Linked DNA regions of Homo sapiens. The protein of the gene in region 1 purifies or fractionates together with the protein of each later gene. This does not show direct contact. Each region holds a gene or a part of one and is shown on either strand. Other genes may lie near its edges.

What was found.
Region 2: the proteins of CCDC25 (region 1) and NPEPL1 fractionate together in Homo sapiens (co-fractionation; one large-scale study listed by BioGRID). This does not show direct contact.

Annotation. Positions count from the first base shown.
Region 1 is NC_000008.11:27,744,116-27,749,275, forward strand, and holds part of CCDC25 (coiled-coil domain-containing protein 25), read right to left. Parts: intron 4,484-5,160; coding exon 4,380-4,483; intron 4,165-4,379; coding exon 3,962-4,164; intron 1-3,961.
Region 2 is NC_000020.11:58,702,800-58,706,299, reverse strand, and holds part of NPEPL1 (probable aminopeptidase NPEPL1), read right to left. Parts: intron 803-3,500; exon of another isoform or gene 731-802; intron 1-730. UniProt on the Homo sapiens protein: Probably catalyzes the removal of unsubstituted N-terminal amino acids from various peptides.

The DNA.
Region 1 (5,160 bases):
TTTTAAGTTTTGTTTAAATGCTTGTAATTTCTGAAACTCATAAAATGATACTAACACCCTAAATTTTAGTAGCATGCAGCTTAATATGAATTATGACATATATAAGTTACTTGGTTTATATTGAATAAAAATTACTTTAAAATTGAAACAAAAAAGGAATCACCATACCAGGGAAGCTAATCTCAGTATATTCATGACGTATGACTAGTCACTCACTGCACAGACAAAGCACTCTGTCACCTCTAAGGGGAGGCAAGGATGCACGATTGCTTCCCTGAAGGACCTCACAGGTAACACGAAGAGGCACAGCACACACAGCATTATTTACAGTAGAAGGCAGTGGCAGTGTGTATAAGATAAACAAAAAAAGGTACAAAGAAGTTGGTTCTTCATGAGACTGTCATCCATTTAATTAGTTACTGGTCTCACCATTTCCTCTCCTACATGTTACTTCATTCATCCTGTAAGTCTATTCCCCAATATTCCACAAAACCTATAAAGGCTCTTTATCACTTACAACATGAAATTCTGGACTAAACCTTTTAAGTCACTCTACAATGTACCTAATTTTTCATTCTTTCACTTGCCTATGTGTGACCTTGACTCTGGCCTTGCCAGTTTGTTCATTCCTTGCCTCAAAGGAAGCACGATAGACTATTGGCTTCAGGATTAGACTTGAGTTTGGATTCCTGCTTTGTCAGTTACAGGCTACAATCTTTCCACATTATCCTCCATGCTGAAGTAATCTTTGCATGAAAATCAAGTTCATGTCAATGTTCAAATTGATGATATATTTACTGACTTACCATTTCACCTGGGTCTTGTACTTCTCTCATTCCAATTACCTGAGCTTTGGGTTCCAATTCTGATCTCCCAGTCTCTATCACAGCTTTTTATTTTTATTTTTTGAGGCAGAATCTAGCTCTGTCACACAGGATGGAATGCAGTGAGCTCACTGCAGCCTCAGCCAACAGGGCTCAAGCAATCCTCCCACCTCAGCCTCCAGAGTAGCTGCGACTATAGGCTTGTACCACCCACGCCTGGCTAGTTATTTGATTTTTTGTAGAGACAGTCCTAATTTTGTTGCCCAGGCTGATCTCAAACTCCTGGGCTCAAGCAATCCTTCTGCCTCAGCCTCCCAAAGTGCTGGGATTACAGGCATGAATCACTTTGCCTGGCCGCATCTCAACTTTTAAATATCCCTCTCTCAGGTAGTCATAGTCCTTACCCTTTGTTTTGACTGCCTCAACCTCTCATCTGTTATTCACCCATCCTCTTTATGACGTTTCCCTGACTATTGCTTATTTCTTCTGGTTTCGACATCTACATGGGTTGACTTAATTTTGATGTAATAAATGTTTGGTACAGTAACACAAAAAGCCAAATAAAAGAATGCAAAATTAAAACAGGTAATAGACACAGATTTCTATATCTTGGGTGGAAGATTCAAAGACAGAAATTAAAGTGAATGCTAGCACTGCAAAATGTATAAAAACACATTACAAAACAAGTCAGAAGCTTAGAGCCTATTGCTGGAATTTCACAGATGCTGCAGAACACAGCAAACGGCAGCTCTGGATGTGCCAAGCAAAGACTTGCAATGTCACCGCGTTCCATTCCCGGCACTGCAGCCCTGTGCCACGTTCTTCTGTCTTCTGCAGCATGTGACAGAAAGTTGTCTGTGTGGCACACGGTTAACGGAAATAAACATAGCAATTGTTTTTGGTTTTCTGAGATCCATGGAGATTATTAAAAAATACAAATGACCAGTGACAACTTAGAAAGTGGGACTGATTAAACTTTTGAAGGAAAAATCTTATTCAATAAGATTGAGTTTTCCCTTCAGTTAATAGGAGTATTTTATATGTTGATGACACTATGGAAAAAAGCCCAGAAGATACGAAACTGTGTTTTGGTGGACAAATTTTGTTTAAATGCTTGTAATTTTTGAAACTCATAAAAATCATACTAATGTCCTTAATTTTAGTAGCATGCAGCTTAATTTGAATTATGACATCTATAAATTACTTGATTGATTTATATTGAATAAAAATTACTTTAAAATGGAATAAATTGAACAAAGGGAAGAAGAGTATAGTAAGTAATATGTGTAGGTTTGAGAATCAGACTGAGACTAACTAGCCAAATGAGCTTATAACAAGTTTCTTGATTGCTTCTCAGGCTCAGTTTCCTCTTCTATAAGATGCAGATAAAAATCTACTATGGCTATTGTTGGAATTAAATGACAGAATGCAGTAAAGCACTTTGCAATGCAGTGTTTGGCAGATGGAAAATGTTCAGAAGGGTTAGCTAGTCTTCCTTATTCAATGTTGTAAGTAAATTAGGTGATCTTATGTTCCTAATATATGTTCCATCATGTTCCTAAACAAAATTATGTTCGATCCGTAAAGGGCACTAAAAGGCATATTTTCAGTTTCCCCCCACTCCAAACTCAAAACAAAAAAGAATTAACTGCTCTAAATCCTGCATCACTCAGAATTTCACAAATTTTACCTCACTGATGGAGTTAATACCGTTTCTTTCACTTCAAACACAAAGCAGACTCAGAATTCTAGGCCATACCAAATACTTAAACATATATGTTAGTTGGCCTCATATTAGCAGATTGTAACTCAGGGTAACATTTCTGAAGCTCTCCATTTGAACACTGTATTTTAAGTGAAGCCTGTTTTAGCAGAACCCCAACCAGAAACACGTGCATGCGAATAATAAATAACAGTACGTGTTCATTATACCTACATTCTGACCCAACAATCTTTCTAAGAATCCAGGGCATTCCAAGGAAACTGGGTTAGGACATGCCTAAGCAACATGTTTCTGATTCTACACCATTTCCAAAGGCAATATATGTTATAAGTAACTCTTTTTTCTTTTTGGCATATGTATTGCAAATAAACAAACATGGAAAAATCTAGGAGTTCTGTGATGAGAATTCGCAGGATTAATTTCCTTTAATTAGAACAACTAGGGGCTCTGCGGGTACAGCACTGTATGGCAGAACATCCACATTCTAGTCTGTAGAACCTATAAATATGTTATCTTCTATGGCAAAGTAGACTTTGCAGATGTCATTAGTTAGGACCTTAAAATGGAGAGATTATTGTGAATTATCTGGATTAACTCAATCTAATCACACTGTTCCTTAAAAGCAGAAAAGGCAGTGGTCAGACAGGGGGCTGTGACCATGGAAAGCTTGGAGAAGGAGCCACAAGCCAAGAAATGGGGGTGCCTCTCAAAGCTGAAAGGGAAGATTCTCCCCTAGTGCCTCCAGACACTTTGATTTTAGCCCAGTGAGAATCTTGCTGGACTTCTAATCTACAGACAATAAATGTGTGTTGTTTTAAGCTACTACATTTGTGGCAATTTGTTTCAATGGCAATAGAAAACTAACATAATCATTATTCTCATGGCCTTCTTCACTAGAATTTCAGGAGCCAAATTGTATTTGAACTATTTAGCTGTTTAAAAATGTAGTGCTTTGAAGCAGACCTCACTACATTACTTTAAACTTTCAAAATGTAAAAAAGAGTTTTAAAAACAGCTTTGAGAGTTACTAGCATTGGTTTTTAGAGCCAACACAACTTTACTTAAATAGCACAGCTAGTCAATAGTAAATACCTCCCACAGCACCTTTTCCTTTCCAGAAGAACTTTACAAACCAAACCAAACTAGGGATAACCTATGAAGGTTTCTCTATGAATAAAATTAGTTATTTTATTTCATCCACTTTCATATCCTGCTGCCATAAACAAGCAATTCTTTTAACCAACACATTAATATAAATGCCTTTTTTTAAAAAACTGATTTAAGGTTGAGCTTAAGCTGAGCTTGTTACATGTCCCTCCTTCCACCAATATATCGTTCTTAATGGCTAATACATGATTAAAATCATCAGGGAATAATCTTTGAGGTCAGTCTCAATGCCACAGCTCCGACATACCTAAGTTCATCCATTTCCCTCTTCTTCTTCATTTCTTCTTTTTCTCTCTTTTTCATTTCCTGAATTTGGGCTTTTTTCTCATTCCTCTCTTCACGATCTCTGCATTCTTTCTCTGCTGCTAGGTCTGGGAACCGCTCGACTTTGGTCTTTTCTAATCGGTTCAGGATCTCATTTACTTTCTTCTCCACTGTCACAATTTTTACCTTTAAGGGAGATAGGAGAAAAGATATTGCATCTTTTTGTTTTTTTTCTCCCAGAAGAGGGATGAGGCTTTCCAGGGGTTTAGCAACCCAGTTTAATTCCCTTTAGAAAACATATATCATGCTCAGCCCTCAACAACAATGGTGTCAGACAGAAAAGATAGGATACTCCATTCAGTATCAGGGCTCCGCCTCCTTCAGTGGCACAAAACACTTACATCCTTCTGCCTGTGAAAGCCTATCTGCCCCACATCCATGTCAGCTGTTTTCTTCAGGTTAGACCACGGCGTATATACCACATTAACGTTGTTCATCTTGCAGCCTGCCAAGAGAGACTGTCTTCAACATGCAGGCAGGATGAGACTGAGCAATGTGTTCCCTTACCCACTGGCAAACTGCCATAAGCCAACAAGGGAAACGGCTTAGAACGAACAGGCCACCCCTTGTTTTAAACCACCAATACTTTTTCAAAAGCCACCCACAAAAGGCAAATGGTAAAGCTGACAAAATTCAAACGGAAGTATTACTATGGCAAGTAGGAGTCCATGGATTAGCTTCAGGGACTTCTGAGGACTCTCTAAAATTGGATGCAAAATTTATCATTGAGTTTTTTTTTCAAGAGAAAAGGACTGAATATGTTTCCTCAGATTCTCAAAGAAGTCCTTGACTCTGAAGGTTAAGCAGCAACGGAAAGCCATGGCCTGGAACTCACAAGCCCTGGACTCTATCCGGGACTACCACGAGCTAGCCGAGCCTCTCTGGAGAAGTCCCCTGGCCCTCTGAATTTCATATGAAATGTGAGGAAATTGGACTAGTTTAATAGAGTTTTTGCTTATAGTTTCTTCAGCAGTGGAACCCTTTTACCAAAGAAAACACAGAAGTCATCAAAGCAGAGGCGCTCTGGATGGAAGGAGTGCCAGGTACCCTGTTCACTCCTCCTCCTGCCCCTTCACCGCCTCCTCCACCACTCATACCCTCCCTGGCAGCTCTGGAAATCGC
Region 2 (3,500 bases), on another chromosome or scaffold:
TCCTTCATGTCACTGCCAGGTCTATCGCCAGAAGAAGGGGCCACCTCTGCCCTCCTGCTAGTTCACACCTCCTGGTTAATAGTTCACACCTCCTGGTTAACCTGGGTCTAAAGAGGGGCCACCCTTCTCCTGCAGTGTCCACACTGTTTCCTATACGCTGGTTGACAGTGTTACACATTTTTACATTTTACAGGTTCCCAAATCAAATTCACAAGTTCATATTTTAAATTAACAGCAGGTCCTCAGAGGTAAAGGTTTGGGTATGAAATTTACTGAATCATTTTTGAACCCTTATCTTATTACACAAGCTTTGAATTTTAGTGCAAAGTATTTTTAGATGTAAATTGAGCTGCTTTTATAATTGAGTGAAAATGACCCATCTTGTACTACTGAAAATAAGCCATCTCTTCTGAGCTAATCTGTTTGAGAAAGCACAGGATTGTTTAAATGGAAAAACAGGGCCTCCGATCTGGAATCAAACCATGTGCAAAATGGGTCACACAGCAATGCCTGGAAACGGCTGCTCACTGTACACCATGTCTCCCCCGTCACAGCTGCCAGCTCCTTCCCAATTGCAGGTGGAGCCAGGACTGGGCTTGCAAATACAGCTCAACTGATTGATTGTGCAAAGTTTCACCAGCCCCCATATGTTGTTTCTGTTTTTATAGAAGAAACCATTTTCGCAGTGATTTAAGACGGTCTCTGCCTTTTTCACGGGGCTGACACTTACACCCCCTGTGCTGGAGTATCAGGCCACAGTCCCAAAGAGGTCCGGGAGCCACTGTATTCGTTTCCGTGCCCTCTGGGAAAATGAACCAATGCCAATTTCACGTTAGAATTTCCTTGCTGAAGCAGTAAAATTAATTTTTAAAACTCTCAACCCTTGGGTACAATACATTTTCCATATTCCGTGTGACTCATAATGTACTCCTGCTGTTGCTGACGGGCAGTGGTCGGTCAGAGCAGAAGCTCAGCTGTGATTGCTGGGGGAGTTCTGAGCTCCATGAGCCACTCTGGCCACGACACCATCTTTACTTGAAAGAAAAACTGACAGACAAATGGCATTTAATTGGATTTAGGTATCTGGCAGATATTTCCCAGAAAAGGAACAAACTGAGCCTCTTACTTCCAGAAACAGCTGACATTATTTATTGCCAATGGTATACATTTGAGCTTTTAAGCAAAAATCAGAATTTTGAAAAACTTTCTCCTATCACCATGACAACTTCCTCATAATGAGTTTTCTGATGAGATGGATGGTGATATTAAGTGATTTTTTGATACTATATAATGTAATGTGTCAAAAATTTGAATTTCTGCAGAACTCTGTGAACCAACATTTTTCAAGTGAACATTCATTTTTCCATGAAAAACCACATGTTCAAAGTGAGAGAGAACAGCGGATTTAACTGCCACAGAGCCCAAAAGTCTATTCATGAGGCTTCAGATTCCATGTTATAACCAGCCTTTAAGAAGCTACCACTTGTTGAGTTTTGGTGTAGTAGCAAAGAATGTTCATAGTTAGTTAGCTGAAAAAGGTACTAAAATCCTTTTCCCTGTTTCAACTATAAAATGCGTGAGGCCAGATTTTCTTGATACAGTTCAACTGAAACAACACATTTCCATAGACTACATCGGAAGCAGACGCAAGGTCCCTAGCTGTCTTCTATTAAGCCAGACACTGACAGGATTTGTGAAAATGTACAACAATGCTACTCTCTCAGTAAATTATTTTTTCATTTTGGAAGATGCTTATCTTCATAAAATTATTTATGATAACATGCAATGGATTTATATGTTATTTTTAATGAATTATACATGTTATAAATTTCTCACTTTTAATTTCCAGTAGAGTAAATATCAATAGACATTGTTATACAAAAAGCCTCTTTGGGGTCGGTACTTGTTAAGAGCGTAAAGGGGTCTCCAGTAATGCATTTGAGGCCTGCTAGTCCAGGCTGGTCTTGAGCTGCCCTTGAAATCTTTGAAAATGGAGCTGTGATTTTTTTTTTCTTGCAAAACTGGGAGCTGGGCTGGCTCCAGCCGGCTTGCTTTTTGAGGAGTGACCATTTCTGCACCATTTGCTCTACAGGCAGCCACTGGGGAGAATGCCTGCTGCGTTGCGTCTGCGTTTCACACCAGGCCGTTGGGGAGAGATTGTGAGCGCCTTCAGGTCAGGATTGGGGTCTTTGCATCAATGGCTGGAGCCTCAGCGCCCACTCCACACAGTAACAGCTCAGGAAAGGCCTGCTGGTTGATCCCAAATCCACGTAGAACGGTTCCAACTGCAGCGGGGAAGATGGGCTGGTTTAAAATAAAAAACCAGGTATTGTTTCACTGGTGCCAGAACACCCAGCTCTTCCTGGTATTATGGGGTCTGCAGACCAGGTGGACCCCGGGAATAGGCAGGGGCTATAGTCGCATTTTCAGAAGGTGATCTGGAGCCATGGAAAATGCCCTACTCTCTGGCAGTTCTACCAGCCACCCTCAGACCACAGCTTCCCTGAAGGCTGTGCAGCTGTGGCCTCTAGGGAAGGCCTGTGTGGTCAGGTTTTTCCTTTGTGTTAATTTCCAGGCCGGGAGCTGACTAACTGCACAGGTCTACCCACAGCCACATGAGATGAAGTCAGGTGCAACGATATTTTCCCTAAGTGACTAGAGTTAGTGCCACAAGCAAACGAATGAATTCCCAGGAAGCTCATCTTCTCACATTGGTCCACAACAAGCCGACATCAAAAACAAGCATCTGATCCAAGGAGAAGAGGGTCCACGACTCTACCAGCCAGAATGTAGCGGCTTCCAGGGTGACCGTGGGTATTGAGGGTGCGTGCGAGGGTGGGAGCAGCCAGTACCAGGTGCAGGCAGTAGGGGGTGCACTATCTGTGGCGAATTTAGGAATCATAACCGACTAGAAGTCAGTTTGCTTATTACCACCGTGTGCCGGTATCTCTGAACAAAGTCAGCAATAACATATTCCTCCTCCGAAAATCTGTTGTTGATTGAAGTTTAAAAAATTGCTGTGGCTACGGTTGCGTTTTAATCACACAAACAAAAGCTTCAAATTCGCATATCGTTGTTACTTATCCTGAAAGTAACATTACATGGACGTTAGCAATGACCCGACACAAAATCTACTACCCACATTCCTTCTGAGAATCGCTCTGACAGTCAGATCCTGTGGGCTGGCTCTGGGCACAGTCGGGGCCTCCAGGGCCCATGATTTCCTACCTCCCGGTGTCGAAACAGAGGACCCAAAATAAAACACGAGAGTGCGGGATGGTCAAAACGAAGACGCGGAACCTGCGTTCCTTCACTTCCCTCATTCCATGTGAACACTTGGAGTTACTGTGTCCAAAATGCTTTTGTTCTGCAGACATCTGAAAGCCACAAGAATCCACCCTGAAGAACTGAACACACAGTGGGTGTTGTGATTGCTGGAATTTACTGTGAAATGGGATTTTTAAGAATCTCTGCCAAATGATACCGTATTAAAGACTTTT